Linked DNA regions of Homo sapiens: regions 1, 2, 3, 4, 5 and 7 are each reported to be linked to region 6. The links are microRNA targets in miRTarBase. Many come from high-throughput screens and were not tested one by one. Region 6 holds a microRNA gene; each other region holds the end of a gene's coding sequence.

Evidence for each region. Region 6 holds the annotated microRNA hsa-miR-3613-3p (ACAAAAAAAAAAGCCCAACCCUUC, at 2,725-2,748, opposite strand). A microRNA usually pairs through its seed, bases 2 to 8, with sites in the 3' UTR of a target mRNA and lowers its output. Matches are read on the target gene's strand: a 7mer-m8 pairs with bases 2 to 8, a 7mer-A1 pairs with bases 2 to 7 and ends in A, and an 8mer does both.
Region 1: miRTarBase lists SLC36A4 as a target of hsa-miR-3613-3p. Seed matches in the 3' UTR shown: 7mer-m8 at 1,474-1,480.
Region 2: the mRNA of TENT5D is a reported target of hsa-miR-3613-3p. Seed matches in the 3' UTR shown: 7mer-A1 at 3,281-3,287, 8mer at 2,875-2,882, 7mer-m8 at 2,685-2,691 and 7mer-m8 at 2,148-2,154.
Region 3: miRTarBase lists PTMA as a target of hsa-miR-3613-3p. Seed matches in the 3' UTR shown: 7mer-m8 at 2,691-2,697, 7mer-m8 at 2,600-2,606 and 7mer-m8 at 2,572-2,578.
Region 4: miRTarBase lists TNFRSF9 as a target of hsa-miR-3613-3p. Seed matches in the 3' UTR shown: 8mer at 3,827-3,834, 7mer-m8 at 3,673-3,679, 7mer-m8 at 3,666-3,672, 8mer at 3,440-3,447, 7mer-m8 at 3,350-3,356, 8mer at 2,677-2,684 and 1 more.
Region 5: miRTarBase lists ZWINT as a target of hsa-miR-3613-3p. Seed matches in the 3' UTR shown: 7mer-m8 at 3,020-3,026.
Region 7: miRTarBase lists SH3BP2 as a target of hsa-miR-3613-3p. Seed matches in the 3' UTR shown: 7mer-m8 at 2,046-2,052, 7mer-m8 at 2,799-2,805, 7mer-A1 at 2,806-2,812, 7mer-m8 at 2,960-2,966 and 7mer-m8 at 4,226-4,232.

Annotation. Positions count from the first base shown.
Region 1 is chr11:93,145,140-93,149,404 of GRCh38, forward strand. SLC36A4 (solute carrier family 36 member 4) reads right to left here. Exons shown (of 11, transcript NM_152313.4): 11 at 1-3,705. The coding sequence ends at 3,398. Among named protein-coding and RNA genes, the nearest start is that of SLC36A4, 51 kb to the right of the region's middle.
Region 2 is chrX:80,442,880-80,447,144 of GRCh38, reverse strand. It overlaps TENT5D (terminal nucleotidyltransferase 5D), which reads right to left. Exons shown (of 3, transcript NM_152630.5): 3 at 1,836-4,265. The coding sequence ends at 3,436. Among named protein-coding and RNA genes, the nearest start is that of TENT5D, 25 kb to the right of the region's middle.
Region 3 is chr2:231,711,771-231,716,035 of GRCh38, reverse strand. It overlaps PTMA (prothymosin alpha), which reads right to left. Exons shown (of 5, transcript NM_002823.5): 3 at 4,053-4,146; 4 at 3,520-3,593; 5 at 2,485-3,232. The coding sequence ends at 3,185. MIR1244-1 (microRNA 1244-1) reads right to left here and starts at 2,722; the gene lies at 2,638-2,722. RefSeq lists enhancers at 505-744, 306-835, 836-1,365, 1,375-1,534, 3,337-3,837 and a silencer at 1,023-1,317.
Region 4 is chr1:7,916,821-7,921,029 of GRCh38, forward strand. It overlaps TNFRSF9 (TNF receptor superfamily member 9), which reads right to left. Exons shown (of 8, transcript NM_001561.6): 8 at 1-4,103. The coding sequence ends at 4,015. Among named protein-coding and RNA genes, the nearest start is that of TNFRSF9, 22 kb to the right of the region's middle.
Region 5 is chr10:56,354,504-56,358,666 of GRCh38, forward strand. ZWINT (ZW10 interacting kinetochore protein) reads right to left here. Exons shown (of 9, transcript NM_007057.4): 7 at 4,053-4,163; 8 at 3,874-3,956; 9 at 2,724-3,682. The coding sequence ends at 3,915. Among named protein-coding and RNA genes, the nearest start is that of ZWINT, 4.7 kb to the right of the region's middle.
Region 6 is chr13:49,993,702-49,997,966 of GRCh38, forward strand. MIR3613 (microRNA 3613) reads right to left here and starts at 2,800; the gene lies at 2,714-2,800. It overlaps TRIM13 (tripartite motif containing 13), which reads left to right and starts at 3,341. Exons shown (of 2, transcript NM_213590.3): 1 at 3,341-4,062. DLEU2 (deleted in lymphocytic leukemia 2) reads right to left here. Exons shown (of 14, transcript NR_152566.1): 11 at 3,373-3,718; 12 at 92-260. RefSeq lists silencers at 2,308-2,357, 2,948-3,077 and an enhancer at 2,638-2,767.
Region 7 is chr4:2,832,833-2,837,097 of GRCh38, forward strand. It overlaps SH3BP2 (SH3 domain binding protein 2), which reads left to right. Exons shown (of 13, transcript NM_001122681.2): 12 at 158-217; 13 at 865-4,265. The coding sequence ends at 1,002. Among named protein-coding and RNA genes, the nearest start is that of ADD1, 8.9 kb to the right of the region's middle. RefSeq lists enhancers at 2,317-2,396, 2,657-2,706.

The sequences.
Region 1 (4,265 bases), not on the chromosome of region 6:
GGCACTAATACTTTAATATTTCAAGTAATATTTTATAGTATTTTGCAGTTAAAGAGATTTTACATAACTACTATGAAACTACTAAGATTAGACACTGTTAGGAAATTCAAAACATGCACATTGACATACAACGCTTGTAAATATGTAAGTGCATTTTCCAGGCAAGATGCAGAAATCATTTTAATAACGGAGAATTTAGTGAGAATACGACTAAATATAATGTGGCATTTGCTAATACAGACTTGTTTTCATTTGGTAACATCATCTAAACTGGTTTTTAACCAAGAATACGCTGTAGCTCTTATTTTCTTAATTGTAAAGAAATCTGGCCATGTGGGGAAAAGAAGTCCCTCTGAAAAAAACGTCTGAGAACCAGTGTTTTGACAAGTTGACTCTGATACTGATGAAACTCTTGGGTGTAAGGGAACAGTGATTAACTGACTTGGAACGGAGCTCATTAGAGGTAAATAAAGCTTTCCTTTCTTTCCCCTCAGTAGCAGAAAAGTCTCTCAGGCAACTGATTAACTTTCAGGGAATAGTTCTTCACTGTGGTGGCCAACAAAATGCTGAAGTCATTTTAGTCACAGTGTGATGATCCAAAAGTGATGAGATACAAAATTTGACAGGTGCAATCACTCTCATTTCTCCAGGCTCCCAAAATAAAAGCAAGAGCTGGTATAATCGAAATATCGTCTCCAAAATCTTTAGGAAATTTTACGACTTATTAAAGCTAAATTTTCAGAGAAAAAATTACCCACTGGTTATTTTTGCAAATAAAATGCATCATCAAATACCCTTAATAAGAATACATTTAAGCTTTCCATCTAAATAGTGTTTCTTGTTGAGAATTAAAACTTTCTTCCTTTTTAGCCCCTCTTCTTTTCTGCAATTCAACTTTTTCTTGTATTTAAAGTATTCATCATTTATTGAATTTAGTACTGGATGTTGATTCACCATTCTTATTGCTAAAGGAAGCCTGATTGATAATATACTCAAGATGAGTTTGTGCTGAATTTAAAAATTATTTATTGCTATGATCAATTTTATTCAAATTTCATTGCATTTGATGAATTCCTTAAGGAAAATAAACAATGGGCCAAAGTGTAAAAATTAAATAACATACATAGACTAGAAATATTATCTGAAAACAGGTGACAAAAATCTAATGCTGCTTCCTATTAAATAATAATTTTCAACTCATTTTATATCAAGCTATAAAGTTTTTTAAACATCTAATTCAAGATTATATAATACTAGTTTCAGTGAAGATTCGTTTTCCTATAACTTCTTCTGCATTCTCTTAGTATGACTAAAGGCTCAGTGTAACAGAATTGATATAAAAGTATCTCAAACAATTACTGTTGATACCTAATGTGAATGGTTAAAAAAGTTTTGATTCTTATGACTTTGTACCAAAATAAAGCTTCTGATATATCTTTAGGATTGTATTTGATGATCAGTTAACGATACAAGCAAAAAATACTTGAACTAAGTTAACATTTACATATAAAAATAGAGAATATATACAACTATAGTGATCTTGATGATATCTTCAAGTATGGTATACTAACAAACTAGAGTATCACCAGCCTGAGTAAACAGTTCATGTTTTAAAGTCTAAATTGTTTTTAAAGTCAGAAGACAATTCTATTCTTAATAATTTTCATTTTCCCCACTAACTGAGAGATTCTTTATCTTGGTTAATAACTTGAAAAATATGGAATAATTAGAAGTTATTTGTCTGAAAGAAGCCTGGAGTGTCTCAATATTTAGAAGGGAGTTTATGGATTTTTTCTAAGCATGAATCCCTTTATGTTATGATTCTTGTATATATTTATTGTTGTTTTAGTTTTTAAGAGTTGGGATCTCCCTCTGTAACTCAGGCTGGTGTGCAGTGGCACAGTCATAGCTTACCACAGCCTGAAACTTTTGTGCTCGAGGGATCCTCCTGCTTCAGCCTCCTCAGTAGCTGGGACTACAGGTACACGCCACATCAGGCTAATTTTTTTTTAAATTTTTATGTTTTATAGAGTCGAGGTCTCACTATGCTGCCCAGGCTGGTCTCAAGCTCCTGGCCTCTCAAGTGATCCTCCCAACTTATCCTCCAGAGTAGCTGGGATTATAAGCACAGACCACCACACCTAGCTGATTCTTTTATTCTGCTCATAATAAATAAAAGGCTGTGATAAGAAAAGCCACAGGGCTGGAAAGAGTCCACAAATCCTCCGTTTTCTGAGGTGTCTATTTTCTGCCATTCAGGAATGTGGTGCCTACAAAACTCAGGAAAGGAAGGTAATAATTAAAAAAGCTCAAGCCACAAATAGTATAGCTAGACACACATCTTACTAGCCAGGAGTTTCACCAGCAAGCGGTCTCTATTCTGTTTTAAAAGAACATAGCTTCTTTCTCTTGCTGAGGTTTATATGGCCACAGTGTAGGCTTCTTGGAGTTCCCTGATTTTCTGCTCAGGTCACATATACTATTAAAAATCACACATTCATTTTCAAAGTATTAAAATATAATCAAATAGATTCAACACTAAAATTAAGCTGAACATAATTTATTCTTTTTCTTGGACATGATGTGAGAAATAAAACATCCTGGCCTGGGAGTCAGAAGATTAGGTTTTCTTGATCTCAAGGCTGAGTGGTCTCGACCAAGTTACTTAACCTTTCTAGGCCTCCTTTTCCTCTGACGAAAAACAAGGGAGTTGCACTGGATAAGTTTTAAAGTCCCTTTTCAAATTTCATTGAAACACTAAGTCATGATCTTGAACAGTGCCTCTTGACTATGAAGATCAACTACCATTAGAGTGTAAAATTAATTCTAGTGTTTGCAATTTTCTGATGCTTATATTATGTTAATGGGAGTTTTCTATACTTCCAGGAGCCAATCATTAGAATTTGGCTAATAAAAACATAACTGAGATTTTTTTTTTTTACACTGTACATAAAGTTTACTTTGGCATTCACAGGGATGATCTGGAGAGAGCTTTTTGTTATACATGTTCTTATTTTATTCTCTTATTGTTGAAATCCTATTCTGTTCTCAAGTGAGTGGCAAAAGAGTAGCATAAAAGAGAGATAACTTGGTTAAGGTATTTCTTACTGAGATAAAAGAATAATAGAAGTATTTTTATTCTTTAATTTTTTTACATTTTAATTTTTTCAATTTTCAGAACTTAATTTTTTGAACTATTGCTAACACTTAAAAGCAAGGATTTTTCATAGGTTTACCACTACTGGTAAAGAGTTATGATTACTTCCAAAATATTAATATCGTGCCAAAGAAAACAGAGTTTGTTACCATTTTTATGTATATAGCAATGTATTTTACTAGTTATCTTGATAATTTTCAGAAATGGGACAAAAATAGAAGACTCATGATTCTGCTTTTACTATTTCAAACCAGATGTTAAGCATGTTGAATTCAAATTTAGAAAAGGACTCTGTGGAGTGCCAGCTACAACTTTGGGAGTAGGATAAATAATTTCTTCAACAGTTATATATGTACCTAATAAGAAGCCAACAACTCCAGTGAATGCTATAGAAATATTTTTCAGGACCATCCATATATTATAATGTTCCTTCGAAAATGTAAGAATTTCAACCAAAGGTGGCAGGATTAGGGCCAATGTGCTGCTGCTCACAGCTCCAACGAAGGAAATCACAATGTCTAAACGAGGAATAAGAATTGCTCCGGCACCTAGAAAATGAAAATACATTTATTTTTCTTATTTAAATGTTTGTTACTTACATGAATATTAACAGTAAGTATTTTCAATACTGAAAGTAATTACTAGAAATAATTAATGAAAGTTGAACTACTAAACTATTGCTTGTGAAAAAAATCTGCCATATTTTGTTCTAAGCTAGAGAGAGACAGAAAGACCAAAATAGTGAGTGACATGTCCTAGACTTACACTTGTCAACAGTTTCTTATGTAAACAACTTTTAATTTTTTGCTTTAAAATTCTGGGCAAAGAAGTTTTGATAGTTTATTTCCAGAGCATTTGCATTACTTTGTCTGCCCATACAGCTCAATAACGCACAAGACATAGAGTGGTGGGACATAAATAAATGAGAGAGAAGAGATAGCTATTCCTTAAAGTAGAATTCCAATTAATCAAAATAGAAGGAACAATGGAAACAGAAAAGCATTAAGCAAATACCACAATAATCACAGGATAGGAAGAGTCACTGATGAATGCTGAAATTAGTGGGCAAAAACTGGATGAGATCAGAGTTTCAAAATATCTTCCTTCA
Region 2 (4,265 bases), not on the chromosome of region 6:
GCTTCCAAATAGCATATATGCTAAATAATATGTTTTCTGTTAAAACTTGTAAAATTCAAGAAAAACTGTTTCCTTAATGGAGGATTTAAGAGCAAAACACTGAAATCCCAACAGATTTGCTACTTTCAATATGTGCTGAAGAAATATTCATTAAATGGAGCAGTGGGTCAGCAATAAAATTTCCAAATGCTTATTACATAAATTTTAACATTATAACTTACAGAATATAACCACCAAATAGAGAGCACAACTAAAAACAAAATGTTAAATGCATTTTATTTTACAATGGTAAAGGAAATAAATCCCAGATTAGGTTAAAATGTTGGGTTTGATGCCTTATCAAAGTGGTCTTCATGAAAATATTTACCAAATTATAGTTCTACATATCTCCCAATCCTGTTTTAATGTTAATTTACAATGTAAGTTATATTTCTGAAAATCTTCAATGAGTGAGACATATGCGCTCTTAAATCAATGTAATTTTGAAAAGTATTGGAAACTTTAAAACTTCAACAATGTTCTCAATTATATGCTTTAACTTCCCATATTTTTAAAGTTGAACGACTACTTCCAGGTAATAGATGCACTGAATAAAAAGGATTTTTAATTGTATCTGAGGCATTTTTCATCTTATTTTTATCAATGCATAACTAAACTGTGACTTTAAAGACAAATGTTAAACTCTCTAATTTGAATGTATTTTAATAGATCTTTGCTGATGTAAGAAGATGGAATTTGGGCACAGAAGGCTTTCCGAGTTTTGAGGGGAAGTTGACATTTCTAGCTCTGATATTTTTGTCTTGAATTTAGATGGCTTTTCTCTAAATTAAATCAACTAGTTAATCCTTCTCTTTCAATTCTGTTCAACTAAATTGGGCATGAGTCACTATTAGAAGAATATATAAAACTTTAAAAGTTATAAATACCCTACTTGTAGAAGTTTGATAATAATGTGTGGATATTTTTGAAATACAAGAATATTCTGGTTTAAAAAATATGTATCTGTAGCTGACAAAATTTGTCTCACAGATATGAATGTTAGAATTATATTAAAAATTGCTTTCTTTTTTGGTTTTGGTTAGGTTCCTGAAAAAAAAAAACTTCCTAAACCAAGACTCAGTATTGCGTTTGTACAAAATAAAATGGCTACATATTAAACAGGCAAAGATAATACTGTTTCTCTTTGGTAATGGGATGTCATATGCTTTAGAGTAGGGTTTTTAAAAAAATAACTTCTATTAACTCCTTTTGGCAAAGAGGCTAGCATTCATTAATTTACAGAAAAACTTTTCCATTTACTACCCTAATCAGCAGAATGAAATAATACTCCTTCTCAAGGGAACTAGCCTAATCCTGGAGAGATATTCATACACTATTGAAGACTGATATTTTTCTGGTTGGTTGGGAGCAAAGTACTAGCTTGGTAACGGTATCTATAGAAAGCAAGCCATGAGAAATAAAGCTACAGCTTTTTCTTCAGTGATACCATCCCCATTCAAGAGGTTTAAATTCTTTCTCTTGAGAAAATCATAGATAGCAGTTCTGAGAGCTTTGCTGTTACAAGGGAAATACATGCTTAAAATGTTAGGAGAACATACCTAGCTTTCAGGCCATTCTTCCATCAGGACTTAAAGCTTTAGGAGAATACCATAAATAATTTGCTTTTTAGGAAAGAAGGAGTTTAAATTCTCAATGGGATCAAAGAAAGCTATGGGAGCACATGGGGTATGAGATATTTCCAAATAGCTTCAGAATTCTGCTATTCAGTGTCAAATACCACTCTGGAAAATATTGAACCTACTGAATCTATACCCATGACATCACAATCATAGTCCTTTCATTTCTAAATATTTTATTGTAATTACAAATTCTTTGTCAAGAAAGTGGTAAGTCCATAGTGTTTTAAAGCCTCAGGGTTCTGTGATATATAATTCTTTAAAAATATACTGATGGCCACTTGTGCTGTGGTATAAAACATCTCAGAAATATTGGTTATTTGAAAATGCCGTATTTGGTGTACTTCTGTCCAATATTGTAATACAGTGAAGATAAGCACAGTCTATAACTGGCAAATTATCGGGATACAACTGTCAGGTCATGTTGTGATAGAAAACGTGATGGTCAATAAAAACTGAAATGGAAACTCACAAAAAATCATAACCAAGTGGAAATACTGAAGTTTTCCAATGGCCTGATCCATATTAATTTAAGACAGCTCCTCTTCTGACACTTCAGGTAATATTGGTCATGAATTATTTTCATTATGGGAAGAAAATACATTTTTAATCCCACTGGTAGATTTTTCTAGCAGTATACTCGATGTAGTAAGTATATATTTAGATATACTGTAAAGGTATACAGTTGTTGAATAAATTATAGTGTTACGCAAAAATTCACACGAAGAGGCACTTGAGTGGCATGTTAGAAAATGATCTTTGGTAAAGGCAAAATGAAAAACCTGCTTCATTTAGTTACAATGAAAATATTTTAACTTACTGAAATGGAATGTTTCTCAACATAAAGATGTTTTTCAAATAAGCCATAAAATGGTAAATGCTATGGCTATAAACCTCTGCCTGTTTTTTTCCTGTTTGCCATTTAGAGTCTCTTTGTAGTAGATGATGATAGAAAGCTTTCACATTCAGAGCTGGTCATTTTCATTCGTTTTAACTTATTTTGAGGGGCAAAAAACCCTGTATCTGATCTCAGTAGTAGTTGCACAGCTGTATGGTATTGTTATTCAAATCCACAAATTAACTAAATGTTTTATTATATAGATGACAAATTACTAATGTCCAGGGCTTTCCAGAACCATTTTTTTCCAGTATTCCTTTAAACTATAGTAGGATTTTTGTATCCAACCCAATTTAATTGTCAAAAAAAAATGCTTGAAAAGTCCAGGGTTTTAATGTCTTCTGAATCTGTTGCTTTTGAAATTAGGCATTTCTGTTAAGTACTGAACATTTATTGATGGTATTGTTCAATAGAAAAAAAGAACTAAATGTAACAAAGGAACTGACTGAATATAAAAAATTTGATACTTCACTGTACATCTTAATTTTAAAACATGAATCTGTCCTTTTATGTTATAGTCAAAGATGCAGGCATCTCTAATATATTTGTCACAGTAAATTTGAAAGTCACAAGTAGTCAAAAGATTTGAAAATCACTTCAAGGGGAACACAACATTTGAAAGTTATTATAGCTAGTCAATAACGTTTGAAAAACATTTAAAGTGGTTGGTTTATAGATATTGTATTTACTATGATGGCTTAATTGATCAAAAATAGTTGGTAACTACTATTCCATCAACTGTAATTGAAAATAATTGGTAACTGTACAAAAATAAAAACAGATCTTGAATTTTACATTTGGAAACTTGCTTTTAAATGGTGTTTAATTAAATCAAAGTTTCTATGGTTGCATGTGTATTTTTTAACTCATACCATTTGATCCACGAAAGTGCAGTGGGTGGTATGGCTGGAAGCTAACGGGGGGTGGCTCAGGTATTACATAAATAGGGTACCTTGCCTCAGCTGCAAAGTACGGAGCAGGCTGATAAAAGCAAGTTACCTTTTGTGTATTGGGTAGAATATTTAGTTCTCCAAGTACTTTCAAAGCCATCATGGTGATCAGGTGGAGAATCTGTCTTCTTTCATAACTCATGAGGCAAACAGTGCTTTCATTCACAACTCCATGCAAGGTCATAAGGTAGTCATACTTGGTCATTCCTTCACCTATGAAATGGTTGTGGAGGTATGATTCAATTTTCTTTTGCTGTTCTTCTATATGAGGAAAATCAATAAAGAATCTAGAGCACATATAACGTTCTAGGTTTTTGATTTCTGACATACAGGCTGGCTTGAAGCCATGAACCAGCAAGCTGCAGTACTTCAGAAGGCCACCACCTCTAATCTCTTCAGGTTTCCTGGTACATATGAGCTTGTGTTGCAAATGTGTCATTGCTTCCTGGAAGTCTCCATACATGCTTTCAGCTACCACAACAGGATAGGATTCTTTGGTTAGCTTGGCATTTTTGTCACTGTAGAAGTCTAACATGGGATCCAAAACAATTTGAAAGGAATCTACACTAAATTCAAACTGCCGTCTGAGTGAACTCACAAATTTTAGTTCTAAATTCTTCCCAGTGTTATTTGAAAGGGAGATAAGACTCCAACAATCATGCCCATTGCAAACCTTGACCAATTTCTGTACGTAAGCGTCTTTCATGATATCTGGGGAGAGCTTTTCCTTCTTTACATCTT
Region 3 (4,265 bases), not on the chromosome of region 6:
GAGCGTGGAGTCCAGTGAGGGTCTGTAGAGTCCAGTGAGAATGTGTGGAGTCCACTGAGGATGTGTGGAGTCCAGTGAAGATGTGTGGAGTCCAGTGAGTAAGGGTGCGTGGAGTCCAGTGAGGGTGCGTGGAGTCCAGTGAGTGAGGGTGCGTGGAGTCCAGTGAGTGAGGGAGCAGGGAGTCCAGTGAGAGAGTGTGGAGTCTGCTGAGGCAGTATGGAGTCCAGTGAGTGAGGGTGCATGGAGTCCAGTGAGGGTGCATGGAGTCCAGTGAGGGTGCATGGAGTCCAGTGAGGGTGCGTGGAGTCCAGTGAGGGTGTGTGTGGCCACAGGGAAGCCCAAGACCGTGGAAGAGTGGACCCCTGCTTCCAGCTTTGGTTCCACGTAAAGGACTCAGTCCTTGGGAGAGGGCATCAGTTGCCCAGAAGGAAGGTCTGGGAAATGACCACTGACTGTCACATCTGACTGGGGTTCCAGCAACAGAGAGGGAGAAAGGTCTTGTTGCGGGAGTCAGGTGGAGGGTGACTGGCGTTGCCTACCTTGGGACCAGGGCCCACTGAAGGGTCTTTCCTGGACAGAATTCAGCGGCACGCTTTACAGTTCCTCTGTGTCCACCAGGGGGCGCCCATTCCTTGATAATCTTTTAACCTGGGCTCCAGTGGGAGGTCATTCGGGGACTTTGGGAGTGGTATCAAGGTGACTCTGGGCCCTGAGGTATATCCTCAGGCAGTGGTTAATTGTGTGCTAGGCTCAGGACTAGGGGTAAGTGTGTTCTGCTAGAACCAGCAAATGCTGTTCCAGGCCAAACCTTTGGTGGGATGAGGCAGCTCAGACAGCAGAGGCAGTAAGCTCTGCTGATATGGGTGTCTCAGGGGGACCCTAGCAAGGCAGCCCTGGGCCCTGGCTCATGCCTCATCCTATTGTTCCCATTTTGCAGAGGAGGGGATTGAAGCCCACAAGGTTCAGTTACTTGCCTCATGCTAACATGCCTGCCGTGTCTGTGTGCGGACCAGGGCACAGCTTCTCCCCTTTCAGGGGCCTTGCGGTAGTGGTCCCGAGCAGGACTGCAGCCTGAGGGAGCTGGGTTAGATCTGCTCTCAGCTCCAAGCGCTACCTGCCCTGTGTGGCCTTCCTTCACGGCCTTCGCCTGCACTCCTGCCTTAGAGACACCCTCCTGGGCGCCGAGCTTGGGAACACTGCAGTACTGAGTCGCCTTGGGCGGCAGAACAGAGAGGAGCCAGCGTTTTGGCTCCAGACCCTCCCTTTCTTCCCTGGATGAGCCAGGATGCAGATACCCAGGCTGTGCAGGGGGTGTGGGGTAGATACAGGTCAGAGGGTCCCTCCTACCAAGGCCTCAACCTGCCCCCGATCCTGGTGGCAGCTGCCTGGGGACATGCTGAACAAGCGGCCTGAGCAGCCCCATGAGAGTGACTAAGCTCCAGCCAGAGAAGGGAAAGGTCCCCCCAGAACTCTGGTGCCTGGTGTGAAACACAAAGGTCGGGGGGGCATGGAATGGGGTGGACACGGTGTCAAGGGGCAGGTAGAGGGAACTGGTCTCTCTTGCTCTCTTCAATGCACACATTTCCCTCCTTCCCAGCATCTCCCCTTAACCCAGGCCAGGCCTCTGCAGACACTTCAGTCTGCTCCTGGGAGTTTTCCTGCAGATACCACTGGATGGCTTCCTCAGGTCCTACCTGGGCAACAGGCCCACTAGCAGTGCCTATACCGGCCCCTGCCCCTGCAGCTCTCATTGGAGGATCCCAGAAGGTTCTAGGTGAGCTCTAATCCTTACCTCCACCTCTGAGGGCACGAGCTGGTGGCACTTCCTCCAGTTGGCTATCCTGACCCACTGCTCACAGCCCGTGTATGAATATCCAAACGGCACAGTAACTTCTCCAACTGTGTTCAAGGGGCAGGGTGGGCCTGCCCAACTAACCTAAGGGACCTGGAGACCAAAGGTTGGATGACTGCCAGGCTGCACCAGTGCCAAACCAAAACCCCGGCATTCTAAGAGGCCGGGGGGTACCACGTGCCACCAGCAGGGGGAGCCACGTCATGGAGCTAAACCTGTGAGGCCTGCAGAGGCAGCCACCACTTGGACGCTCATCCTGGGAGGCTTGGCAAGTTCCCTCTTGGCCTATACCACCAGCACCCTGCGCTCCACATAATGGCAGTCCCGTGTGGCCCGTTTCCAGTGTCTAGGACTGCAAACCCCCACCCCCAGGGCACCAGGGTCCCCATGTGGCACCCAGTGATGAAGTCCTCCTCCCCAGTTAAGGCTTCTTGGGGCAATCACTGACTGCCCCAGTGAGCAGCCCCCCCAGCCAACTGCAGCTCAGTCCCTGCCCACCCACCAGACTCTGCTGCCCATCACAGGACACATCCAACTGCCTCCCAAAATGTCAACCCACTGTCCCCAGGATCCTCCCCCTCCTATCCTTGTGCCCTGGAAGGTCTGAAGAAACTGAAACAGAAAAACCAGGCTTGAGACAGCTTTGTTAGAACAACTCAGCAAAATAAAATTCCTGTTTATTGTTGGACAACATTGTTTCACACATACATCAAACAGGCCAAAAAAAATAAACAGCAACTTCATAGACAAAAAAGGAAAAAAAAAGAAACCTTTTATCTTTGGCCTTTTTAACCATCTCATACAAACCAACTACTTATAGTACAGCTAAGTACATACACAAAAAAGTTACTGGAATGCTCGGAATAAGATTGTTTTTCTGTTGTCATTTTTGCTTTTTTTACAAGGTTTTTTTTCTCCTTTGAGATTATAATGAACATGGTCACACCACAAGTAAAGTCAGAAGTAGGACAGAGAACGCTCCGAAGGCTGGTTTGGTCATCCGAGATCATTAAAAATGGCTGACCCTAACAATATGTACAAAAATATAAAATGTAAATAAAAAATACAAACAAATTTCCTTTTTAAAGTACTTTTAAGAAAAAAAGCAGGGCCTTGGAAGTTTTGGTTCTTTTTTCCTCCCCTGTTGCAAATTCTCATGGTTTGGGTTGGGTGGTGGAGAGCGCGTGTCATCTGCGGGTGGCACTGCCCACGGTGGGCGGGCGGGCCTCTCTACTCGAAGGTGACCACGTTTAGATTCTGAGACGGGAAGTGGAGGGTGAATAGGTCACGGCGGCCTTTTTTTTTTTAGTTTAACTTTTCCTTTTTTGCTGTCTAGTCATCCTCGTCGGTCTTCTGCTTCTTGGTATCGACATCGTCATCCTAAGCAGAGAAAGACTGTCAAAGGCCCCTCCAACCCCAGGAGCCCTATCCAGCCCACTGCCTCAGCTCCTGCTGGCAGAGCAAGAACCAGGGACCCCCAGCTCCACAGCCCAAGGCCTCTGGGAAGTTGAGCCCAGCCCTGTTTCCTTCCTGTTCTTAAGATTCAGGACCACACAGTGGCCACCTACAAAGTCAGAAACAGTCCCTCCGCAGCTTGAGCACCTCAGCTAAAGGCAGGTGGGGAGACCCAGATGCCAAACCCCCCTTCTTCTCAAGCCAGAACCCACCTCATCATCTTCAGCTGCCCGCTTGCCCGTAGCTGACTCAGCTTCCTCATCTTCATCTCCATCCTCTTCCTCACCTGGAGAGAATCAAAGGCCAGGTAAACCACACTTCCCTCCTACTGTGGCTCCTGGGGAAATCCCGAGGAACATGTAGTGGACTGCAAGGTCCCTGCCCTGCCTCTACTGCCTGCAACTGGGCCCAATCAGGGCACCCACGCCCACTACACAGGTGGGACTCTCCAGAGGAGAGAGGCCCAAGCAGCTGCACCCCAAAAGGCCAGCCCAATAGATCAGTGGCTTTCAGAGCTGCACGAAAGAAACTTTCAGGTGTGCGAGTGAGTGTGAGTGGGCATGGGCACAACTCCATGTCAGGGAGACCTTCCCTGACTCTACAGGTGGGTGCCCAGGGCCATGTGGTCCACTGGCCCCAAGTACCATTGTCCCACTCCCAGGAGCCCCAATTCCTTCCTTCCCCTTCTGCCAGACAAGGCCAGGAAAAAGTACCTGAAAAGGGGAAGATAGACAAGGCTACTCACCATCACCTTCTTCTTCCTCCTCCTCTTCCTCCCCACCTTCTTCCTCTTCTTCGTCTACCTCATTGTCAGCCTCCTGCTCCCCATTTTCCTCATTCTCCTCGACAGAAAACAGGCCATGTCATTACCAGCTGGCCCCAGGCTGGACAGAGCGTTGCTCCTGATGCCCGGCCTCCCACCAGAGGCTGGCGGCTGCATCTACAGCCCAGCCAAGCC
Region 4 (4,209 bases), not on the chromosome of region 6:
TCTCCCTAAATTGACCTGTAGATTTAATGAAATTCCAATCCAAATCTTTTCAAATTCAGCTTCTAAAATTTATATTGAATAATAAAGAACCAAGAATAACCAAGACATCTCTTTTCTTTTTTTTCCTGAGACAGAGTTTCGCTCTGTCACCCAGGCTGGAGTGCAATGGTACGATCTCGGCTCACTGCAACCTCCGCCCCCCGGGTTCAAGCAATTCTCCGGCCTCAGCCTCCCAAATAGCTGGGATTACAGGCACATGCCACCATGCCTGACTAATTTTTGTATTTTTTAGTAGAGATGGGGTTTCACCATGTTGGCCAGGCTGTCTCAAAACTCCTGACCTCAGGTGATCCATCCGCGTCGGCCTCCCAAAGTGCTGGGATTACAGGCGTGAGCCACCGTGCCTGACCTAGCTAAGACACTTCTGAAGTAGAAAAAGAAGGTGGAGGGAGATGTCCTACCGGATATCGAGAGCTGTTACAAAGCTATTGTAATAAACACAGTGTGATACTGGCACAGGATAGACAAATTGACAATGGAACAGAACAGGGAGCCCAGAAGCAGACCCATGGCCCTATGGAAACTTGATGGATGGTAGGTGAGATTGCAGACCCGCAGGAGAAAGACGACGTATTGAATACATGGCGCAGGGACCAGTGGTTACCTACATGCAAGACATGGAATTGGATCACTACCTCCCAACAGGCACAAAAGCCAGTTCCTGATACATTAGACTTCAAGATGAAAGACAAAACTTAAAACTTTTGGAATAAAATGTGGGCAAACCTCTTTATAGTATTGGGCAGAAAAGGATTTCTTTAGCCAGGCAAGAAAAAATGTTAACCATATGAGAAAACAGTTATAAATTTAACCAAATCAAATGAAGAACTTTTTGCTTATTACCAGAAAGACAAAGAAAGACACCATTAATTAGAGAAAAACAGGAGGGGCGCGGTGGCTCATGTCTGCAATTCCAGCACTTTGGAAGGCTGAGGTGGGAGGATCACTTGAGCTCAGGAGTTCAAGACCAGCCTGGGCAACATAATGAAACCTCAGAAACCTCACCTCTGCTAAAAATAAAAATAAAAAAGAATTTTATAAAAAATTTTAAAAAGGGAAAAATAAATTACAAAGGATATATATATATATATATATAGATATAGATAGATAGATAGATAGATAGGCAGAATTTCACTCTTGTCACCCAGTCTGGAGTGCAATGGCACAATCTTGGCTCGCTGCAACCTCTGCCTCCTGGGTTCAAGCGATTCTTCTGCCACAGCCTCTGGAGCAGCTGGGGTTACAGGCACCCGCCACCATACCCAGCTAAGTTTTGTACATGTTTAGTAGAGATGGGGTTTCACTGTGTTGGCCAGGCTGATCTTGAACTCTTGACCTCAGATGATCCACCCACCTCAGCCCCGCAAAGTGCTGGGATTACAGGTGTGAGCTACCGTGCCTGGCCACAAAGAAGATATTTTTTAACACATATAACTGACCAAAGATTATTATCTAGAATACATAAAGACCTTTTAGGAATCAGGACAAACAACCACATTTGGGTTTGTTTGTTTCTGAGAAAAGGTTTTTCTCTGTTGCCCAGGCTGAAGTGTAGTGATGCGGTCCCAGCTCACTGCAACCTCTGCCTCCCAGGCTCAAAGCGAACCTACTGAGTAGCTGGGACTTCAGGTGCACACCACCACACCCGGCTAATTTTTGTATTTTTTGTAAAGACAGGGTTTCGCCATGTTGCCAAGGCTGGTCTCGAACTCCTGGGCTCAAGCGATCTGCCCACCTTGGCCTCCCAAAGAGCTGGGACTACAGGCATGAGCCACTGCACCCGGCCCCAAGTTTTTTTGCAAATGGGCAAAAAAGCATGAGCAAGCATTTTATTTAAAAAAATAAACACAAATGGTATATAAATATTTGACAAGGTGCTCATCAGTAACCAAGCAAATGCAAACTAAGACCACAGTGAGATCTCATTCTATACCCACTGGCTTGGCAAAATTAAGGGCACCTGATAGTACCAGAGGGTAGCAAGGATGTGGATCAATGGGATACTTACATGACACTTATATGACTGACGGGAGTACATTAGAACAGCCACTTTGAAAAGCAATTTGGTACTGCAGTAGACTATTGTTCAGAAATATCTTCTCCTCACCCCTATTTACAGAATATACTTTTCTGCCCTATTGATGCCTGGCTTGGCTGCAGGATTTGCTCTAAAGGTTATAGTAGAACCAACTAAATAGGAGCAGAAGTGACAGATACCCATTTGCCATGCGATGGCCAATGTTCCAAATAGAAGCTGCTCCCTCCACCTAAATCCCAGAGTAAAATAACATGGGACAGAGGCACGCAAGCTTGCAATAGGCATGTCATACAAAAGTGTAAGAAATGGCCAGGCATGGTGGCTCATGCCTGTAATCCCAGCACTTTGGGAGGCAGAGGTGGGCAGATCACCTGAGGTCAGGAGTTTGAGACCAGCCTGGACAACATGGTGAAACCCCGTCTCTACTAAAAATATAAAAATTAGCCAGGCGTGGTGGCACATACCTGTAGTCCCAGCTACTTAGGAGGCTGAGGCAGGGAGATCACTTGAAACTGGGAGGCGGTGATCCAAGATTGTACCACTGTACTCCAGCCTGGGAGACAGAGTGAGACACTGTCTCAAAAAAAAATAAAATGAATAAAATTTAAAAAGCTATCCTTAGATCATAAGCCAAACAATGGCAGGCATGCCAGGTTTGCACCTGTAATCCCAGCTACTTGGGAGACTGAGGCGGGTGGATCACTTGAGCCCAGGAGTTTAAGGCTAAAGTGTGCTATGATTGTGCCTGTGAATAGCCACTCCATTCCAGCCTGGGCAACAGAGCAAGACTGTCTCAAGCAAACCAACAGACAAACAAAGGCAAATGGTGCACCAGGTTTGGCCATGGGAGTTTGGCGGCCCCCACTCTAGTGCTGTGGTAGGACAATGAGCTCACAGGTGTTAATTTTCTCACTGTACTTCATACCTATCATATGCAGTTCATTTATTGGCTTTGGTATAAAATATTATGTTAAAAGTTAAGAATTTTTAGAATGTAACCTGGCTTAAAAGGGAGCAGGACAAAGGCAGAAGGTGTGAGGATGGAGAAGACCATAGGATATACAGACACTTGAACTCTTTCCAAAACTTCCTCCAGGCCTGAGGTTTTTTGTCCTTGACCCTAAACTCAGGCACTCTGCTCATACTCCCCCCTGACGGTGGAGCATGTCGTGTTACATGACAGAACCCACGGAAACTTTAGTCGGGTACTTACTGCACCTCGTGGCTTATTGTCATATGTCATATTAGCACCAAAAAACAAACCTGCATTGATTTTGATTATAATTATAGTTGGACCACTGGACTATGTAATTGAATTTAAACTATAATTTTCTTTGGATTTCAAAAAAACTAGCTCAAACCTGTTAAGTGGTATCTAGAAAATGCTTTTTTTTTTTTTTTTTTATCACCAGCTCTGTCCTCATCTGTCTGTTCTGTTAAAAGTGGTGCATTATTTTGGCCGGGCCTGGCAGTTCATGTCTGTAATCCCAGCACTTTGGGAGGCCAAAGTGAACCTAGGAGTTTGAGACCAGCCTGTACAACATGGTGAAATGCCATCTTTACCAAACAAAAAACAAAAAAGTTAGTCAGGTGTGGTGGCCCTTCCTTGTAGTTCCAGCTACTCAGGAGACTGAGGCAGGAGGATCACTTGAGCTCCCAGAGGTCAAGGCTGCAGAGAGCCATGGTGGTGCCACTGCACTCCAGCCTGGGTGACAGAGTGAGACCCTGTCAAAAAAAAAAAAAAAGTGGTGCATTTTTAAAGGCCAACTCATTGGCATTTAGAAAAGAACGTGTGTTGGGGGAATCCTGGGTATTATGTAGGATGGTGTTCTTGCTTTTGAAAGCTGTGATAGCGGATGACTCATATTTCCTTGCTTCTTTTCAAGAAAGTCCCAACAGCCCTATTGACTTCCATTTCACAGTTCACATCCTCCTTCTTCTTCTTCTGGAAATCGGCAGCTACAGCCATCTTCCTCTTGAGTAGTTTGTACTGGTCTCATAAATGCTAAAAAAAAAATTTTAAGATACGTATATTTTGTTGTCTATTTGAATCATTTAACACTTATTTTCCATAAATTATAGCTGCAGAACATCTCTAAGCAGCAAACATT
Region 5 (4,163 bases), not on the chromosome of region 6:
AAATTTGGAATACCTCCTGTATGCATTGTGTTCCTTTTTCATTTTTGGCAACCATTTACATTTCCACCAATGTTTGTGGATCTACCCTCTATCAGTATTTTTCTTGAACTTGTGGGTTTAGTGATGAACAAAAATGATAAAATCTCTTCCCTATAAGAACATATATAATGACTACACATATACATAAGCCTATATGTAACTAATAAATTTTAAGGAACAATATTCAGAGGTGTGATACCATTTGAAGCAAATGGAATAAAAGAAGTAACAGTAAGATTACAAAATTTGGTGCATTAAAAATAACAAAATTATCTTAAATCCATTGAGGAACTAAACACTATTACAAATACATTTGAGAGGCAAGGGCAACAAAGGAAACCTCCTTGATTTAAAATAAAATCAATACTAAAATTATAATCTATTTAGAAATAATCAATAGCCTATGTATTAAAATATATGAATTATTCTCAGAGTGGTGGTCAAATAAAAATGTAAATATGTAAATGCGTTTGTTGGACTATAAAAAAGAACATATGTATTATCAAATATTAATTTTTAAAAATCCTACAAATATTAAAAATTAGAGCAGAAGGGAATAAAGACAAAAAATAATTAAAAGAATGTATTAAAAGCAACATTAAAGAAAATAATGCCAATACCTGTGTTTTTGAAAGACATATAAAGTAGAAAAAAGGCCTTTGGGAAATACTAATAAGAAAGAAAATAAACAACAGGAATGAAAAATGGGATAGCACACAAATATAAAAAACATTAAAAACACTCATTTTAACATTTCTAAGAGTTATACAGGTAATGCCCACAAGCTATTGACAGAAGTTAACACAAATTCTCTCAATTTTGTATCAGGCCGTAACGGTAAAATTTAGGAAAAATAGGCAGCTCAAAGTAAAACTACATGAACTATATTAAACAGGGAGTATGAGAGATAGGCCAATAAAGTTATATATTATGAACCTTTCCAAAAAAGATAATGAAGTGTCCATATATTAAGATAATAAAAAATAAGCTCGTATGTATACCTACTATGTAGTCAAATACATCAAGAATTAAAAAAAAAAATTTAAAAAGCTCAAAATGTAAGCCAGAAGAAAATATTCAAAAGCAGTAGTAAATTGAGATCTAATACAACTTATTGAAATGAAAATCAAAGATCAAAAATTAAGAAACTGATGAAAAAACAATAGCTTGGCTATATAAAGTTAAAATAGAAAAAGCATCTAGAATGCAATCTCAGAAAGAGCAATGGTAACTACAAAAGAAAGTTTGCATGACATGAAGAAAAAAGTTAGAAAATTTGATTGATGTCTAATTGGCATTTTAGAATAAGCTAATACAAAAGAGGTGTTTTTTAAACAGATAAACTGAAAATATTCCAGAATTGTTGAAAGAGTGGCAATTTAGAAAGCTCAACTATTTGCAAGCAGAATGAATGAATAAATAAGTAAACCAGAGTCCCAAACTATTCACAATATAGTAAAACTATAGAGCACTAAATACAGGTGTTAAAAGCACTAACTGGGTAAAAAAATGCATAGGAAGGGCTTTTAAACTGACAGTTGACTTCTCATCATCAAGGATCAAAACCAGATGACCAGAGAATCAGTTGAGTTAATCTTCAATGTGTTAAGTCAAACTGCCTACCAAGCATTCTCTACATAATAAAAACATTTCTCAAGAATAAGGATGAAATAAAAATATTTTCATAGTAAAATTTAAAACATTATACAGTCTGCAAACTCTAAGGGAAATTCTGAGACATTTATTTCAGATGGAAAAAGTATTCCACATGAAAGCTCTGAAATGTAAAAATAATGTGGGCAAAAATAGTAAATAAATTAGTAATAAAGCATTGACTGTATAAAATAATTTAAAAAATTAATTTATGAGAACACAAACAGGCTAGAAGTAATAAACTGGACAAAAATACCTTAATAGTTTAGAGTGGGATGATCTATCAATGGTTACAGCTGTTTAGGCTTCATTTATTAAGAAAAGGATGAAGAGTCTTTAATTCTTTAAATAACTTGAGACATTGCTAACTATGAAAGCTAAACTAGCCGGTCTAAATTAGACCTTCTAAACAAACAAACAACAAAAAGCATGAAGAAACAATAAAAAATAAAAGGCATGAAAGGGATAAATAAAAAGCCAAGAGAAAGCAAATAAAAAATTGACACAACTAGAAAATCATAAAGACAAATGTGACAAGAGTTTTTTTTTTTTTTATAAATAACCCTTTAAATGCTGTATACAAGTGGTAAATATAAAGAAAGGTTGAAACTAAAAAAGAATGGAAATTCAAGAGAAAGGATGTCAAGCAAAGGGTAACCAAAAGAATTGACAGTTATATTAATATTAAAACTAGTAGTTTTCAAGGTTAAACACATTAGCCTATAGATGAAGCAGGCTACCACACAAAGAGTTCAGTTCAGAAGAAAAATATAAATGTAAATTTACATATACCTTAATAAAGTAACTGCAAAGTATGTAAGAAAATGGAACTATAAAGACAAATGCACAAATCCACTATCATAGTTGGAGATTTGAACACACCTCTCAGGTGACAGACAACAAAAAATTAAGTATATAAGATATAAATTGAAACAAAAATTGCAAACATAATCTAATAGAAAATACTACACACAATCTAAAATGCATTCTTTCCAAACCTATGTGAAACATTAAAAAAGATGACATCACTCTTTATCAGTAAAAAAGATAATTCACTCACCAAATTTCAAAGTTTATTAAACAGATGATATTCTCTGACCAAATTAAACTTAGATTATCTTCTCACAATCAATAGAAGACCAAATTATTTTTCAAAGAAATTTATGAATCAATGAAATAATTATAACAGAATATAGGAAATGCTATGAATTGAATGATTGTGAAAATAAAGGAAGTCAGAAGAAATGTATAACCTTAAATATTTATTTGAGAAAACAAATAAAGATCCAAATACGTGAGTTGATCATCTGATAAAAGTAAGAGTTGACAAAAAAGGTACATCTTCTCCAATCCGAAAACAGAAAGTGGGAAAGATCAAGGTATCACTAGAGGTCAATGAAACAAAACATACAATAGTGGATGACAAAAGCCAATCTCTGAATCTTTGAAAAGAATATAATAAATGAACATCTGAAACCAGTGATCGAGAAATGTTTTAGATAAGGCACAAAAAGATACCAAGAATGTTAACACTAGGCTGTACATCCTAAAACAGTCAGATGAGCTCACTGTTATAATTCTGGTTCACCGCAAGAACCTTAGCACAAAGAAAGGACTCAACAAACATTTGGATCCATGAATAAAATTATCTTCCCACATATAACCACCTGCCTAAAACATTCTCCTCCTCCTTGAATTAAATTCACCATGTCTGCATCATAGGAGGCCCAAGGCCAGTACCCCCTCCCCATCTGCACACCCTGTGTTCAAACCAGTCCCAGCTCCTGTCATGTTATTGGCTTCTGAGTATCTGTATTAATAGTTGTTCCTGCCAGCATATGAAGATGAACAAATACACAACTGAGAGAGATCCAGGGATTTTAATCCACAGATGCCAGAGCTTGCTGGGATGTAGTCAGAAATCAAGCTGAACTCAGGAGTTCACAGTCTTTCCTGTAATGATGGTTGGGAGGTGAGGGAAGTCAGAGGCCTGGGGAAGAAGACAGGGGTTAGCTCTGGGTGGGCTAAGCATGGGAATGAGGTGTAACATAAGCTCTTTCCTGTTCCCACCATCCATCTGCTCCATGGGTAGCAGAGCTCAGATGCAGAGAGAGGTAAACCAGGCTTTCCCTCCTTCCACACTTGCAGTCCAGGGACACCAAGGCCTGAGTTGGGTCTGACCTTTTCTAGGATCTTTCTCCATGCTGCTGTCCTCCAGGAAGTCATGGCAAATTTACATCTCCAGCAGGTTGTAGACCAACAGCCTTGGAGAAATACAGTATAGACAGTGGGTAAGGCCAATCTCCCAGCTTCTGTCTCCACCTGCCAGCCCATGCCCACCTGTTCCATCTCTCATTTACCTTGAAGGACACACCAGGGTCTCTCCCCATGGTGTCTCCTGTACTCTGCTCCTGGGGTCGAGTCGGCTGCTGGGGTTTATCATCTGGAAGATTCTCTGCCTCAGCCTCAGC
Region 6 (4,265 bases):
ACAATATGAAACTTACATAAGACTAGATATATCTATAGTCTTCGTGCTGTGCTGATATATAAATTCCAAGTTTCAGCTGTTAGTTACTTACTTGGAGATCAGTAGAAGGAAATTTCAGTGTGACAAGAATGTTGACAATCCCTGTGCTATCTGTACTAGGATCTAGTTCCACTGTGCTCTTCCAGGGAAGGATGTAGCTGTGTATGCAGGTTTTAGTTGGACAGTCATCTTTTTCTAGTGGCAGTTTCCCAGTCGCTGTTCTGTGTATTAGGACCACGGGAGGAGAGAAAAGGTTATTCTTCCTTCTCCATTTTTCCACACTTAAGAGAATTTAATATACTGTGTTTTCTAGTTAGTAGTTAATTTTGTGTAATAGTCTAGAGATTGCTATACAGATTTAATGTGTTTTACACTTAGTTGGGCAAAAGTGTATTAGTATCTACCACCAACCAGATCTAACTACATAAATATATATTATATAATTATATTAAGGATAATTTGTGGGTTTTGCGTGTGAACCCTAAAAATCTGAGCCATGTCCCAGTTAATTTAGAAAGTTTATTTTGCCACGGTTGAGGATGCGTGCCCATGATACAGCTTCAGGAGGTCAGAACCCGAGGTGGTCAGAGCAGTTTGGTTTTGTACATTTTAGGAAGACACGAGACATCAATCAGCGTGTGTAAGATGAACACTGGTTCAGTCCAGAAAAGGTGGGACGACTTGAAGCAAAGGTGGGACAACTCAAAACAGGGGGCGGGCTTCCAGGTTTTAGGGAGATAAGAGGCAAATCACTGCATTCTTTTGAGTTTCTGGTTACCCTTTCCAAAGGAGGCAATCAGATATTCATTTATCTCAGTGAGCAGAGGGATGACTTTGAATAGAATGGGAGGCAGGTTTGCCCTAAGCAGTTCTCCGAAGCTTGACTTTTTCCTTTAGCTTAGTGATTTTGGGGCCCCAAGATTTTCCTTTCACATGAGTTAATAACTGTCCAGTCTTGTGAAATATCATTTTAATATTAGGATATCTGAAATGTTTCCATATGGCTGGGTGTGGTGGCTCACGCCTGTAATCCCAGCACTTTGGGAGGCTGAGGCCTGAGGAACACTTGAGCCCAGGAGTTTGACACCAGCCTGGGCAACATAGTGAGACTCTATCTTTACAAAAAATAAAATTAGCCAGGCGTGGTGGCGCATGTCTGTGGTCCCAGCTACTTGGGAGGCTAAGGGAGGAGGATAACTTGGGCCCAGGGGCTTGAGGCTGTAGTGAGCCATGATCATGCTACTGCACTCCAGCCTGGGGGACAGAGATAGACCCTGTCTCAAAATCAATCAACACACAATGACAACAAATAAATGAGATGTTTCTACAGATCACTTTGTTTTTTTAGAAACACTAAATTAATTAATTAATTTAGTTATTGAGACGGAGTCTTGCTCTGTTGCCCAGGCTGGAGTGCAGTGGTAGGATCTCGGCTCACTGCAACCTCCATCTCCCGGGTTCAAGCTATTCTCCTGCCTCAGCCTCTCAAGTAGCTGGGACTACAGGCATACGGCACCATGACCGGCTAATTTTTGTATTTTTAGTAGAGACCAGGTTTCACCATGTTGGTCAGTCCGGTCTGGAACTCCTGACCTCAGGTGATCTGCCCGCCTCGACCTCCCAAAGTGCTGGGATTACAGGCGTGAGCCACCGTGCCTGGCCTAAAAACACTAAATTTAGTAAGGTACTGGGGTGCAGTTTTGTCACTGACAGTTATGGTGCTGTAGAAAGAGCCCATATCTGGAAGCTGCCTTTAGCCTCAGCTCTGCCTCTTGCTTTTGTACCTTGGAAAAGTCACTTCACCTGTTTTCTCATCTATATAGGATGAAGATCATAATTTCTTTTACACAGTGTTATGAGACTGAATGACAGAAATTAAAAGAAGTGTTCTACGAAGGCAAAGTTAGGTTTCTTATAGCAGGAAGGGAGATGCACACAGAGAAGTGGGAATCTCAGGAGACGGATGTGGCCAGGGGCTTTTTACGGGGGTTGGGCTAAGCATTATTAGTCAACGGGCTGTACTGCTATTTATGGTAGGTTTTGAATACCGTTTCTCCAAAATAACCTATTTCCTCCCCAAACCCAAACTTCCTCAACTGGGATCGAACTCAATCCTACAGCGTGTTCTGAGATTCTATACTCGCCTCACTTCTCCCAAGATCGTAAATTCTGGAGGAGCCATTCCTTCATCATCCATGTTTGCATCCTTCACACCGTTCACTGGTTAAGTGCTTAGTACGTTTGCTATTGGGCAAGGTCCTCAAACGGGAGGTGGACGTCAGAATAGTCAGGTTATCGACTGAGTAACTGTTAGTGGTGGATAATTTAAAGCCAATTTGAAAGTTCATCCTTTCCCCCAAAGGCAAAAACAGGCGTTCCTTTTCTTAAAAGAGAATTTTAAATAGAATTGGGTCTCTGGTGTCCTGCCTAAAGCCCGCAAAGAAAGAGGGTACGGTTGGGGGTGGGGGTGATGGGGGATACTGAACCCTTTTCTGGTTGCGCCTTGCCCGGAGCCCCCGGCTAGAGCCCTGGCGCTCCTGGCGCGCTCCCAACGCGAATCGGTGACTCCGCAGGCCGCGCAGTGCGGAGGTGCCCGTCCCACCCTCCCCCTTGTGGGGTGCGGGGCTCCATTTCCCCAAGCCGCTGGGGTCGGCTTCTGGTCTTGAGATGCGGATGAAGTGGTGTGAAGGGTTGGGCTTTTTTTTTTGTTCCTAAAAATGCAACGAACAAAAAAAAAAGTACAACAATCCAAACCCAACCATCTTAATTGCACGGCAGCTTAACTGGGAGACTTTCTTCCCGGGCGGCCCCACCCGGGACCGCGCCGCTTCAGTCGAGCCCACCGTCTGGGCAAACGGCGTCCACTTCCCGGAGCCGCTGCCCAGCCTCTGCGGGGGGGCTTTGGGCGGGCGCAGGACTCTGGAAGGGAGAAAAGCCCGCAGCCCGGCCCTCCCCGTCCCAGGCGGCCCGCGCGGGTGGACGGCGGGAGCAGGCGGCGGTTGGAGACGCCGGAAGGAACGCGGTCTCACCACCCGGCTCCCTCCGCCAAGGCGAGGCGCGGCCGGGGAGGCGGGACACAGGCGAAGCGGGACGGGGAGGCGGGGCCGGAGGTGCAGGCGGAGGCGGGCGACGGGGAAGGGAGGGGGAGGGGGAGGGGAAAGGGAGGGGGAGGGGGAGGGGAAAGGGAGGGGGAGGGGGGAAGGGACGGGAGGGGAGGGGGAAGGGACGGGAGGGGAGGGGGAAGGGACGGGAGGGGAAGGGGAAGCGGGAGAGGGAAGGGGGCGGAGCTAGCCGGAGCCGCGAGTCCATTTTGGGGCTGTGCTTGGCGCGTACCGTGCGGTCCCTGTAGTTGGAGGACGGGCGGTCGCGCGGCCTTTCCCACTAGCCGGAGGTCGGAGATAAGTACCCGCCGCCCGGCTCCTCTCGGGAAAGCGGGGTGGTCCTCGAACCTTCAGCGAGGGTGGGGAGTTGCCCAGGTCAGCAGGGATCTGCGTGGGTTGGGGGGGCTGGCGAAGGCCGTCTGAGCTCCAGTCCGGCAGCGCGGCAGAAACCAGCGGGGCACTGTCATGGGCCTGGGGAGGAGCGGCCTGCGGAGGGCGCCGGGGCAGTGTGTCTGTGGTCCAGAAAACCTGCTCCGTCCGGAGCCTTCCTGGCCCCGCTACCAGCGTCTCCACATCCCCTAGAAAAGAAAAGACGGGTGTGGGCCTTAGGTTACAGCGCGCCGCCAGCGTTTGGTTGCATGGCGCCGGGGGAGGGCGCCCTAACCGAGAAGCTGCTTAATACAAAGAGCTCCAGGCTCCTGGCGGTTCACCAGGTCTAAACAGCCGGGCTTTATTTGTGGGGGCGATTGAAAAAATTGAGGGTCAAGATTGGGGTGCTGTGCAAATAAATGCGTTAATACTGTTCTTTTTCTTCTTTCTTTGCAGTAGCCTCTAGTTCGTTAGTCAAAACGTGAAAAAAAAGACCTGCTTTGCCCTGGGAAATAGTAACCCTGCCAAATACATCAGCTTGTAGGAGACAGAGGTAAACTACAATAATTTTCCTGTGTTATCTTTTTTTTTTAAACACCCAATTTCAATAGGCCCTAGAACCTTCCAAAATGGAACTGTGTGTAGAATACGTATGTTCCCATCCACTTTCATTGGTGGTCTTTGTTCTTTGCATATTTTGTTAAAACTTAGAAAAACAGAATTCACGTTTAGCAATTATTTATGTGGTATTTATCT
Region 7 (4,265 bases), not on the chromosome of region 6:
CTGTCCTTGTGCAGGTGGTCTGGAGTCCCTCCCCGCCCCCCGAGGGCCACAGGACCCAGCCTTGATGGTTCTGCCCCCCTATCCCCAGCCCATGGTCTCCCGAGGCTGGTCCCGCTGTTTCTCAGGGAGCCGTCAGCCTCCCGCTTCCGTCCTGTAGGTCCTGGTTGTGTGGGACGAAACCTCTAACAAAGTGAGGAACTATCGCATTTTTGAGAAGGTGAGAGGGCTCTGAGTGGGACGGGGACCCTGGCCGCATGGCCTGGCAAGGGGCAGGGCAGAATCTCCCTGATGAGGCATAGGCAGCGGGTAGACTGAGACTGGCACCTCCAGGATACCGCCCTCCCCTTCCCCTCCACCATCGCTCACCCCCCACCCCTCCTGCTCAGCCTCCCTCCTCTCGTGGCCTACCTTTGTCCTCCACTGACCCTAGTGGGGATGGGCGGTCAGCCATAGACCCTGGGTTGCTTGTCTTGTCTTTTTCTTTTTGCGGGGACAGGGGTCTCACTGTCTTTCTCAGGCTGGTTTCAAATTCTGGGGCTCAAGCAATCCTCCCACCTCGGCCTCCCACAGTGCTGGGATTACAGGCGTGGGCCACCGTGCCTGGCCTAGGTTCATTTCCTGACCTTGTCTGAAGTGCTCTGGGTGCAGGCTCCTGGACATGGAGGACGGAGGGGAAGTGAGGTGGGAACATGGAGAGCACAGGCCTGATGCGGAGGCCACCTTGGGGGCACCACCGACAGCCAGGGGCCAGCCTGGTGATGCCGCTGTTGATGCTGCTGCCTTGTTTTACAGACGGGGAGACTGAGGCCTAGAGCCGCAGAGTGGCCTGGCCCTGCTGACGCTCCCCCTTCTCTTCCCCCACAGGACTCTAAGTTCTACCTGGAGGGCGAGGTCCTGTTTGTGAGTGTGGGCAGCATGGTGGAGCACTACCACACCCACGTGCTGCCCAGCCACCAGAGCCTGCTGCTGCGGCACCCCTACGGCTACACTGGGCCTAGGTGATGGCAGTCCATGTGGCTGCCAGGCCAAGGCAGTCACAGGGGCCCTGACCCCAGGCCACACAGACGGACATGGGCCCACATGGGAGGGTGAGCAGGAGCAAGGCTGTGCTTGCCTAGGGCCTCTGTGATGGACATCTCGTAGGACCCAGCCAGTCTCATCCAGCAGGTTGGGTTCTAGGGCTGAACCAGGCGCCAGGCTCCAGAGGACGAAGGGACTCTGTTGCCCCACACTAACTTGCCCTGTCCCAATCCCAGAAACCCAGGACCAAGCTGTGCCTGGGCTCCAAGGACAGGAACACTGGTCCCCCCATCACACTCACCCCTAAGTGGGCTGGGAGCCAGGCAGGGCCAGGGCAGCTGGGTGGGGGCCGGGGCTGGCCCTGGGACCCCCAGGAACGCTAAGACACAGGCTCCAGTAGGGGCTGTTGCCTCCAATAAAGCAGCAGTGAGCTTTGCCTTGGTGGCTGGGGCTTGATTGGGAAGGAGGGGATTACCAGCTTACTGGGTGCCCATGCTGATGTCTAAGTGGTGACCGCAGCAGTACCCGGGAACCCCAACAGTTGGTTGTCTTGTCTTCCAGGGTGCAGGTCACTGAGTGACTTCCCCAGGGTGCACAGCGAGTAACAGATCAGGACCCAAACTTGGGCAGTCTGGGCTGGGAGCCCACACCCCACTCACCAGTTCTGCTGCCTCAGGTCAGGCCAGGGCAGTGCTGCTGCAGAGCTAGAAGGCCCTGCAGCTACAGCTGCTTCATTCCCTGCATTAGTGCCTGGTTACTGGGTACCTCCTGAGTGGCTGTCCCCGTTCCAGAACTTGCATACACTGAGCGGGCTACAGAGCTAGAAGGCCCTGCAGCTACAGCTGCTTCATTCCCTGCATTAGCGAGCAGTTATTGGGTACCTCCTGCATGCCTGGTCCCATTCCAGACAGGGGCCTCTGGCCTGGCTGAGTTCACAGCCCAGTCTGGGGACAGCTGGGTATGAGGTGCTTACGGCACAGTGTCCAGGGCAGCTGGGTGTGCAGGGACTGGGGGCTCCCGGAAGATTTTTTGGAGGAAGTAACAGCTACGATGGGATGGGAACAGTGGACCCTAAGCAGGCCAAGGGTGCGTAGGGACGGTGGTACCCAGATGCCCAAGTCTTCCAGGCAATACCTGGCTCAGGCCCAGCCCCAATCCATCCCCTTACTTTCTGCCATGGAGTTCCAGCAGGTCACTCTCCCTGGCACACCTTCCAGGCTGGATTTTTAATGAAACAGACTCAGGGAGGTAGGGGCTGGCAGGGACCCTAGAATCCTTGTGATTTTTCTTAGCACCTTATGTCAGGGAAACCTAAACTGAGGTCAGCACTTGGGCCCACTGACAGTGACTGACTGGGGGAGAAGGTCCTGCAGCCCCCTTCCCCTGGGTGTGTTCTGGGGACCTGTGGTTTGCTGGCGGAAACAAGTGATGAGGCTGGTTAGCGGATGTGGGAGGCTGTGACCCCAGGGGGCCATAGGGTGCGGTGGAACTGCAGGCCCTGCAGATGACGGCAGCCAGCTGCTTCCAGGAACCAGGTGTCCAAGGCCACCTCTGCAGGGGTTTCCTCTTCAGCCTGCCTGGGGTGAGAGGTCAGTGCACCACAGCCGAGGCTGGAGCACAGGGAGCTTCTGTTGTTCTGATCTATCTCTGGAAAACCAGCCATTCCTCCTCCCTGCAGTCAGAATTCTTTGCCCTGTCTGACCTGAACTTGCTTAGGGAGTCATGCCACTCCCCACTGTGGCCATAGTTTCTCTTCCTGTAAAATTTTATTATTTTAGTTTTTTGTTTTTGAGATGTAGTCTCACCCTGTCGCCCAGGCTGGAGTGCAATGCCGTGATCTCCGCTCACTGCCACCTCCGCCTCTCTAGTTCAAGCGATTTTCCTGCCTCAGCCTCCCGAGTAGCTGGGATTCCAGGCGCCCGCCACCACGCCTGGCTAATTTTTTGTATTTTTAGTAGAGACGGGATTTTATCATGTTGGCCAGGCTGGTCTCGAACTCCTGACCTCAGGTGATCTGCCCACCTTGGCCTCCCAAAGTGCTGGGATTACAGGCATGAGCCACTGTGCCTGGCCCCTTCCTGTAAAATTTTTAAATGGAGAATTGGGTGCGAGATGTGGTTTCCAGCCTGGTGCCTGGGGTGCTGAGCTAGTGAGTGGTGCAGTCCAGGACACCTTTGCTTTATGTCACTTACACGGTCACCTGGAGCCGGCTCAAGTGGCTAAAGCATCCTGGGGCCCAGAGCCAGGTGATAGGTCCCTCTGGCCAACTGGACAGTTGAGGCCTGTGGTTACCCGAAGCCCAGCTGGGGCCCTGGTCCAGCCTCGCCTCCCAGACTCTGCACCTGCTAGCACAGCTGTCCACGTCTGTGTGAGCTGCTCTAGGCCGAGGGCCTCAGTTTCAAGAGTGTGTTGGGGTGGGATGGGGCAGGCCGTGGTCCTCCAGCATGAAGAAGGAGCCATGAGGAGTTCCCATGACCTCCCGAGACTTGCCATAAGTGTTCTAGTCCACATATAAGGGTAGGGTTGGGATTACCATTTACTGACCACATCTGTGAGGTGCCGAGCTGGGTGCTTGACATCATTTGCTTGGAGAAGCAGCTGCTAGTAGACCCATTTTACAGGTGAGAGAACCAAGTCTCACAGAGGCCTGGGTTCAAGTCCCACCTCTGCCACTAACTGGCATGTGACCCTATCTATCCTTCACTGCTCTGAGCCTAGACCCTGGCCCCTGCCTGGCTCCCTGCCAGGCTCCCTGCCACCCCTCACGACCTCTGATGGTCGTTGTGGGGGTCTCTTGCCTGGCTCCCAGGGCTAGGGTTAGGGCTCTGGAGGTGCTTTCACTCAACCAAGGGGGCCACAGCACTGGGGAGTGAAACTGCCCCGCCTCACCCTGCGTTGCCCTCTGGGTCTGTGAGGGTGGGCTGGCAGGAGGCCTAGGCCTTGCCCTAGGGGCAGTCCTGCTTCCTCATTTTATAGATAGGGAAACTGAGGCTTTGGGAGGACTCACTGACATACCTACCTTCAAGATGAGTTCAGGTGGGCTCAGTTCTGGGGCTTGGGAAAAGGGCCCCAGTGGCTTTGGGAAGCACCCCCAGCCCAGGGTGAAACATGCTTCTTCTCTTCCTGTGGTTCCATCCGAAGGATTGTGGTGAGCCCCGTGCCTTCAGTTAATAAAGATTTGTATTGTGAAAAGATTTTTTCTTTTTTTTTTGGGACACAGTCTCACTCTGTCGCCCAGGCTAGAG